Regions from separate parts of the Homo sapiens genome. Here region 1 is linked to region 2. The links come from fine-mapping of genetic effects on gene expression. A gene starts in region 2. The other region holds a variant in brackets. All regions are shown on one strand. Distances are from middle to middle. Region 1 overlaps GTF2E2 (general transcription factor IIE subunit 2). Region 2 holds the start of RBPMS (RNA binding protein, mRNA processing factor).

Region 1 (4,000 bases), 190 kb after region 2:
CCCTCATGGCATAAAACCTCATGGCATAAAACAACTTTACAGCCTGCATAGAAAACCTAAGAATATTCATTACCAGTGAGGTGTTATTTAAAACACTCATCCTCAATAAATGCCTCTCCTAAAACTCTAATAACTATGATAATGAAAAACTGTATGTTGTCAGCAATTTGATCAAGAGCACTAAATTAGGAAATTTCAATAACTGCCACTGTAAAGCTATCTGTCCCTGCTGTAGAACATCCCAGATGGAACTAATATTAACTCTTGTGTGAACTGGCCTGGCTCCATAGCTACCCAATCCTGAGAGATGCCAGTGTGCTGTGAGAACTAGGCCCCTCTGCAGCTCTCCAACGAACCTGCCACTTACCTCTTCCTGACCCTCAGTTCAAACTCATTCCTATTTGGGGGGCGAGGGAGGAGGGAGCTCTTCCTACAAACCGTAATAATTTGCTGGTAAACATAAACAAAACAGTGAAGGCTTCCATTCTCCACCACTGTTCACATACATCTCACCTATGGACGATCTGAGGGGAAGAGAAAATTCGGGTCCTTGTGTTCCACTTGTCCAGTTGAGAAATTCACGTGGAACTCTGCCCATGGTCGTTAATTCCAAGTTAGGAACTTGGGCCAAATGCTTAAAGTCAACCCAAACTTCTCTTCTGAGCAAAAAGGAAGGCCTAAATGCAATGAGAAATGATGCACGAGTTAAATAAAAGATTTACCTGGACAAAAGAGCACTTTTTAAAACTACAACATAAGCTTTGGCGTGGGGGCTTAGCAGGCACTTCAAAACCTCACAATCACCACCCACGGGACAAACCTGCTCTTGGCGCTTCTAGAGCTGGTCCCGCCTAAATCAGGATATGGTTCACTCAGTTATCCCCTGCTGGCACCCTTCTGTGTTTTCTTTAAAGGAAAGTCTTTGCCTTTTCTCCCTTGACATGCAAGCCCCACGAAGTTGTGGCCAGATGAAAAGTCACTGGGCTTTCACCAGGGTCTCAGAACCACATGGTTAAGTCACACAAATGTGCTGGTCCCATCCCCAACCAGTGGAGTTGGATTAGTCCCCTCCCCATCTGCTGAAGAGCAGGATCCACATTTATTTCTAATGGAAATCCAGGGAAGCAAAATGCACTGTCGTTCTTTACACTGCAGCCAGAGGGGGGCCAACCGTACAGCGCCAGCCAGGGCCGTCTAGCTCTTTGAGTTTCCAGCGGTGCTTCCCCCAACACTCCAGACAGGACAGGGATGGGTGTTCTACGGTCCAGTTAGTCTGAAAAATGGTTTCCAAGAGGTCCTTGGACCATCCCACCACAACTCCCACAGAACACCTTCTCATCTCTCAGGACAAGCCCACAAAAACCACCCTGAGAGACCTCGAACCTGCAGGAAGGTCCAGGAGGGCTGCTCCGCCTCGCTGCAGAAGGCGCGGCACCAGGCTGAGCTTGTCAACAGTCAACCAAACCTTAGAAAACCCCAAATCCTCCCCACAAATGAGTCATCTGAAAGTAAAACCCGTGGCTACAGGGAAGAGACACTGAGTCTCATCCTCTATGCCTCAGAAAATCACTATTAACTAAGAATCAGGGAACTGATAAACCAAATGCCCTCATCCCACAAAACCGTCCACACTGACAATCCCATTCTACTGCTACAGATTTCAAACGGCTCACAGATAAAGACAGGGCTGTCCACTCGCAGTCCCTTGAACGCTGGGGCTGGAAGGAACGGGATGTCCTGCGCTGCCTTTCCACTAAGCCTCTGCTCAACAGGTGTCAAGTGCCACTCTGTCCCCTGGGTCCCACCATCATCTGGCCACATTTACAGGCTGTGACAGCAGCAGCCAAATGTTCGGTTTTTACACTCTGTCCAGGCTTGACTACATTTCCCTTAGCTATCCCCTAAAAGCCTCACATCATGGTGATGAATTATAGATCAAATGCACTCCCGACTGTCATACCCTCTTAACTCACCGAGCCGTGCCATTCCCACGTGCTTCTAAATGGCCAGCAGAG[C/G]CACCAGAAACGGGCAGAGGCGAGAACATGACTTCAACTTGGTGTTTCTGGTGGATATGTTTTCAGACACCCAGAAGAACTGCGAAGAGACAGCTTCTCTGTATAGCATCCCTCGGAGATGCTGCAGACTTGGTTCCAGGCCATCGCAATAAAGCAAATATCACAGTAAAGTGGGTCACACAAATGTTTTGGTTTCCCAGTGCATATTAAAATGTTTATGCTACATGATAGTAGAAAGTGAGCAATAGCATTATGTCTTAAAGAATCCAATTATATACTTTAATTTAAAATATATTATTGCCAAAAAGTGAGCACATGCTGTTGGAAAAACGGCACCAACAGATCTGCTTGAAGCAGGGTTCCCACAAACCTTCAATATGGAAAAGAAACTCCACTGTATCTGTGAAAACACATAAAGCAAGTACAATAAAATGAGGTGTGCCTGTAATATGACCGTCCAACACAAGTAACCTTCCATCAGTGTTCCCACAAACACTGTATCCTCAACATGTCACCCGATGATGCAACCCCAGTACCTTGAGATGGGGTATATGGAGGATTTGCTCTTACATGTAGTAGACTGAGTGGGTCGAGGCTTAACAAAAGAAACTGCAAGTGAATGAGATAAAGCTACGGAATTTTGTTGAGTACAGCAATTTAGTGAGTCACTTCATTTTGCTAGATCTTCATTTCTGAAATGAATTTTAGACAAAATAACTGAAATCAATTATCAGGCCAGCCCACGAAGTACTGCTGAGCACAGGCATTGCTAGAAGTCACAACCAATAACACAACTGGCAGTAAGCGCCTTATCACAGAGATGGAGAACCTGATCACAGAGCCCACGACGGAGGCCCTGATGCCCATCTCCCTGCAAAGCAGATGAGATGTCCAAACTGTACTTCCAGACCTGGCCCATAAAATAAGATGGAGTGTGGAGATCACAAAAGTAGGTACCTACCTGGAGATAAGCTAACTCTAGATTTTTTACAGGAAAGCTAGTTTCATGCCATAAGATATTAAAGCTCTTCCTTACCAGAAAAAAACCTTATACAAAGCAAGACAGGCTGTATTTCCTGTGTTCTAAATTATCGTGGGAACCTCAGTTACATCCTCTCCTGCCATGTTTTGGGGCTTGGAGGTAAGAAAGAGGTAAAGCAAACAGATAACACTGTAAAGGGATGAGAGGTAAGTAGAAAAGAGAAAACAACTGAAAAAGCAAAAAAAGGTTCTTTGTCGTCTGCACAAAGCACTTCCTGCTCTGGGTTTCCATCATGCCTTTTCTGAGAACCAACACCTCGTTTCCTAATCCACTACTATCCCATGCTGTGACGGGAGGACCATGACCACCAGCACAAAGGACCACAGCAGAACATAAACAGTGCAGGTGAGGAAAATGCAAACTTTGCCGTAGAAAGCAGAACCATGTGAATTTCCCGTGAGTCACCCTCACTCTAAAGAACACTCACATATTTGGTAATGGCTCTCATGAGCTGGGCCGGTGACAGAGGGCATCTCCACCAGAACCATCTCCGGTCAGGCCACATGAGGGTGGAGGCATGGTATAGCTGACGTTCAGGTTGACGAGGAGACACTACAAAGGCTTGCCATCCTGGAATTTACCAAACCCAAGAAGCTGGACACTGATACTTTTTTTTTTTTTTTAAGACGGAGTCTCGTTCTGTCACCAGGCTGGAGTGCAGTGGCACGATCTCAGCTCACTGCAACCTCCGCCTCCCGGGTTCAAGTGATTCTCCTGCCTCAGCCTCCCAAGTAGCTAGGAGTACAGGCACATGCCCCAACGCCCAGCTAATTTTTATATTTTTAGTAGAGACAGGGTTTCACCATGTTGGCCGGGATGGTCTCGATCTTTTAACCTCGTGATCCACCTGCCTCAGCCTCCCAAAGTGCTGGGATTACAGGCGTGAGCCAGCTTGCCCGGCTGACACTGACGCTTCTTTTTAAAAGAAAACATTAACAATGAC
Region 2 (4,521 bases):
CAGCAATTAAAAAAACATGTTTTCCTTATGGAAATCTTCCTGTTTCAAAATCTCCAAACCCCCAAGATAAATCCAATATGTAAATCCAAGTATCACTACTGTTTTTCTCCTCATAATGCCCTTAAAGCAAATATTTTCCTTGCTTTCTATAATCGGAAAGAGGATTCTGAGAGTATCTTGGCTCCATACCACTTTATTTTTTTGTCTTTTCTTTTTTTCCCCTCTGTGGAGAACAGAGTCTCACTATGTTGCCCAGGCAGGTCTTGAACTCCTGGGCTCAAGCAATCCTCTTTCCTCTATCTCCTTAAGTGCTGAGATTCCAAGTGTGAGCCACCATACCACTTTAAACTCCCTAAAGGGAGGGTCCTTATCTGCAACTCCCACAGCCACCCCCGCCCTATCCCCAGCAGCACTTAAACCAAGTATAAAGAATGTCTGGTGGGGGTGGGGAGAAACAGTTAAGCAAATACTGTAGTTGGAAACTGTTACCGGTGCAAGACAGGAGCAGCAGGCTGGGATGGAGAATTCCTGGGAGGAAGAAGTGGGGCAGAACCCACTGATATATGGAGTTCCACATTTATACCTTTGTAGCAGTCAAATCTAAGAGTTTAACACGGTGGCTCCACGTTGTAATCCCATCAGTTTGGGAGGCCAAAAGCAGGAGGATCACTTGAGGCCAGGAGCTCGAGCTCAGCCTGAGCAACAAAGTGAGACCCTCATTTTTCTAAAAAAAAAAAAAACCAAAAAACCATAAGCTTAAATGATCGAGTATTGGAAACGCTTTCTAAGGCCCTGGAAAAATAGAAGTTTTCTTAATAATAATGTTAGCTTCCATGTATTGTAAACCTAAACGAAGCAAGAATAAATGCTGGGTGCTGTATATAGCTCTATCAACCTATAATCACCTCGAAAACTCGAGGAGACACATTCAGCTGCTCCCATTTCACGGATGAGGAAACAAGTACGCAATCCTGAAGCTGGTGCAAAGCCCAGGCCCCCTTTCTTTTTCAAGCGTGCTTCCAGCCTCTGAAGTTCCTCCGTACGGACCCCCAGCTCTGCCTGCAATAAGGAATATTCACTTTGCCAACAAATATTTATTGAGTGCCTGCTATATACCCCTTAGCCCGTTTAAATAGCCGTGGGATTAAAAAGATAAATAGGGCAGGATTTTTTTTTTTCTTCCAGGAAGGAGCTTTCTGAAGGGTGAGGGAGAGGCCAGGTAAACAATCCCAGAACAGTCTGGTGAGAGTTGGGAGAGGAGTCGGGGGGCCGCGGGACGCTCAGGAAGCGAAGCGGGGAAGGCTCCGGGCGCGTCGCAGGACCCGCGCTGGAGATGGGTTTGAAGCCCTGTCCTGAAAAAGCCGGCCCGGAGTGGGCTGTCCCCGGTGTCCCTCGAGTTCTCATGCTGTCATTCAAGCAGCAGAGGAAGAACCGGGTCTGGCTCGGGAAGGGTGGGCTTAGGGCCAGGGGTGCAAATCCCTCGGTAAAAGCCGGCAAACTAAAAGTCGCACACATCCCAGGTCCCGGTCCAGGCCCCGGCGGGGCAGGGTCCCCGAAGTCCCGGGGCGCGCAGACGCCGGGGCCCCCGGGGGCCAAGGGAACGGCGGGACCCGACCTCCCTGCCCTCGGCCTCCCGGGCCCTCGCCCTCCGACCAGCCGCTGAGTCGGGGGCTGGGGTCGCCGCTTCCGCCCGCGGCCCGCTGCCCCTCCCCGGCGCGCGCCATCCGGCCGCCGGCCCCTCCTCCCGCGGGGGGCTCCGTCCCGCGCCCCGTCCCTCCGGGCTGCAGCCGGCAGCCCACGTCCAGGGAGGGCGGAGGGAGGAGGAGAGGCGCGGAGAGGAGGGAGGGGAGAGGGGAGGGAGGAAGGCGAGAGAAAGGGAGCTGCTTCCATCCCGGACTTCCCAGAGCCTGCCTGGAGCGCGTACTCAGCGGCTCTCGGGTCCCAGCGTCCCAGCCGCGGCCCGCGCTCCTCCGCCCCGCTCCTCCTCCTCCTCTTCCTCCTCCTCCTCCTCTCTAGGCACCCCCGTCCCCTCCTTCCAGCGGCTGCAGCCCCCAGCCCCAACTCTCCGCGCTTACTCCTGGGACGCGCGTCCTCGCCCCATCCTTTGCTTCCTTCCTTCCTTCCTTCTTCCTTCCTCCCCTGGCTCCCGCCCTCCCTCTCCAGGTCGCCCTCCCGGGGCCCGATTGTCTCGGTGCCCCGCTCCCGGCCCGCGCCCTGCCCCGTCTCTCCCTTGCACTTCCTGAGTCGCCCGCCGCCGCCGTCGCAGACTCGCCGCGGGAGCCCCAGCCCAACCCGAGCCCGACAGCCACTGCCCCGGCTCCAGCTCCAGCCCCACAGCCCGCGGCGCCCGCCCGAGGGAGCCCCGGCGCCCGGGGAAGGCTCCAGTGGGCTAGCGCGCCCTCGCCCAGCCCCGCGCCCCAGCCCTGCCCGGCCCGGCGAGGAAGGACCGGGAAGATGAACAACGGCGGCAAAGCCGAGAAGGAGAACACCCCGAGCGAGGCCAACCTTCAGGAGGAGGAGGTACTGGGCGGCTCGGTGTGGTGGCGGGGGCGACGCGGGACCCAGTGCGGGCGGCCGGCGGGGCGCGGGCCCGGGGCGCGGCGGTGGAAGAAGGTTCAGGCATGGCCCGTGCCCCGGACGCAGCCCCACAGTGTGGCCCGGGGAGGGTGGATCTCGGGAGCGTGTGTTTTTGTGTCCACGCGCGTCTGCGGGCCCCAAATTGCGTAACTCCAAGGACTTTTCGGAGACTTTTGTAAGTATAATGCTCAGCTTTGTTTGCCCGGGATTTATAAGTGGAACCGAGAGCTGACTCCTGGGTGACCTCAGATAATCGGGACTCGGAGGGTCAGGACTTAGGGCCGGGGCTGGAAATTGTGTATGGATTCAGGGTCGGGGGGGGAGCAGTTTAAGGAAGAAACTCGGGGGAAAGTTCTCGTTAAAAGATACCTCTATTCCCTGCCCCCTCCCTTTCCGTGTTAAAAGTTCTTGGTGAAATATCTTTCTAGCCGAGGTTTTTTGGATTAATAGATAACTCATCAGCCACATTCTTCTCTGCTGAGTCAAAGACCCCGAGCCTGGGCGGTGAACGCTTGTGATTTTAGGGGCCGTGCAGCTGAGGGGAGCAGAGTAAGAGGGTTAAAAACGCAGCAATTCACCAAATGCTCATCGAGGGTATTTTCATAGGACTTTGACTTCTGAGCATGCATTTTAGGTGGTGCGTCCGTAATCATGATGAAAGTTTTGTGACTGCGGAGCGTTCCTTCGGTGGAAACAAAATTGAGTAGATGTGGTCAGAAGGGGAGTCGGACTCAGGAACAAACGTTTCAGAATTCAGTAGGATATTTGTGGTATCCTACCAAATGACTCTTTTTGCAGGTACGTTATCTGGAGTCCAAGAAATTATTTCTGGCGTACTTCTTAACATCCCACACAGTTGAGTTCTTAAACATTCTAGAGGAACTTGAGAGTGTGTGTAGATGCAGGAAAGTGCACGTCTAAATATGACCCGAAAAGATTCACACAGGTATTGGATCCTGATATAGGTGAACACAGAAGGTAAACGGATTCTAAAGCGTTAGAATGTTGAGATCATTGTTGAGACACTATGTTGTGTGCAAACTTCAATTCTGATAGTGAAACCAAAATTGCAGAGGAATTCATTAATACATACAACTTCTCTGCACATTGTCCACTTGGAAAATGGTAACTATTTAGATGGAGAAGGTAGAGGAGCGAGACTATGCCAAACAATGCAAAATAAATAGGAGATTTTACTCGTCACCCAGTTGTATGGTAGTGAAAACCTAAATGAATTGCAGTCAGCCAAAAATTGCTTTTTCACCCGAGGACATTTTCTATTTTATTATAAAAGACTATTTGAAGAGTTGTTTACTTGCATGTTTTCTAATTACAATTGTAGGAATGCTACTGGCATTTCTTTTTTCAAAGCGATGGAGAGTTGAATGGTGTGTTCTGATTTTTTTTCTTGAACTTTACTGGCTGCTTTGCTATTTATTTTCCCTACCACTTAAAAAAATTTAAAAATAATGACAAGTGTGCTTTTTTAGGAATTACCATATTTAACTAATTCACTTACCATATCAAGATAATCATCGCTTCAGAAATCTTTCTGTTTCAGCTAGATGTGCAATCTGTTTGCTTCTCAGGGTTAGAATATTATATGAAACCATCTTTCTTTATTCACCCAGTTGAGAAAACTTTTTTTTTTCCTTTTGGTAGGTAGCAAAAGAGGTTCAATGTCCTAAAAATCATACCCACATTAAAATTAAGTATAGAAAAGTCACATTTTTCTGCTTGACCCCTCTTAACAGCTGCCAGGACCAAGGGATTGCCTGCCCTGTTCCTGGACGCTCCTCCGTCCTTGTGAGGTTGTGTATAATAATCGCTGTATAATCGCGGGCCATTGCAGTACAGTTGCTGCCTCTTACTTGTCCTGTTATCTGACAGCGTTCCTTTTCAGGTAGGAATGGCATGTGGCTCTAGAAAGTATCGGTCTTTTTA

Evidence for each region. PIP is the estimated chance that this variant, and not a neighbour inherited with it, causes the effect.
Region 1: its variant is the best candidate, but not a certain one, in a credible set for the expression of RBPMS in lung (TOPMed, PIP 0.74).

What each region holds. Positions count from the first base shown.
Region 1 is chr8:30,574,322-30,578,321 of GRCh38, forward strand. It overlaps GTF2E2 (general transcription factor IIE subunit 2), which reads right to left. Exons shown (of 8, transcript NM_002095.6): 8 at 3,997-4,000. Among named protein-coding and RNA genes, the nearest start is that of SMIM18, 62 kb to the right of the region's middle. RefSeq lists a silencer at 1,432-1,481. The variant C/G (reference allele first, on the strand shown) is at 2,016.
Region 2 is chr8:30,382,639-30,387,159 of GRCh38, forward strand. It overlaps RBPMS (RNA binding protein, mRNA processing factor), which reads left to right and starts at 1,903. Exons shown (of 9, transcript NM_001008710.3): 1 at 1,903-2,520. The coding sequence starts at 2,455. RBPMS-AS1 (RBPMS antisense RNA 1) reads right to left here and starts at 2,763. Exons shown (of 3, transcript NR_046205.1): 1 at 2,506-2,763; 2 at 906-1,059. RefSeq lists enhancers at 1,690-2,360, 2,361-3,032.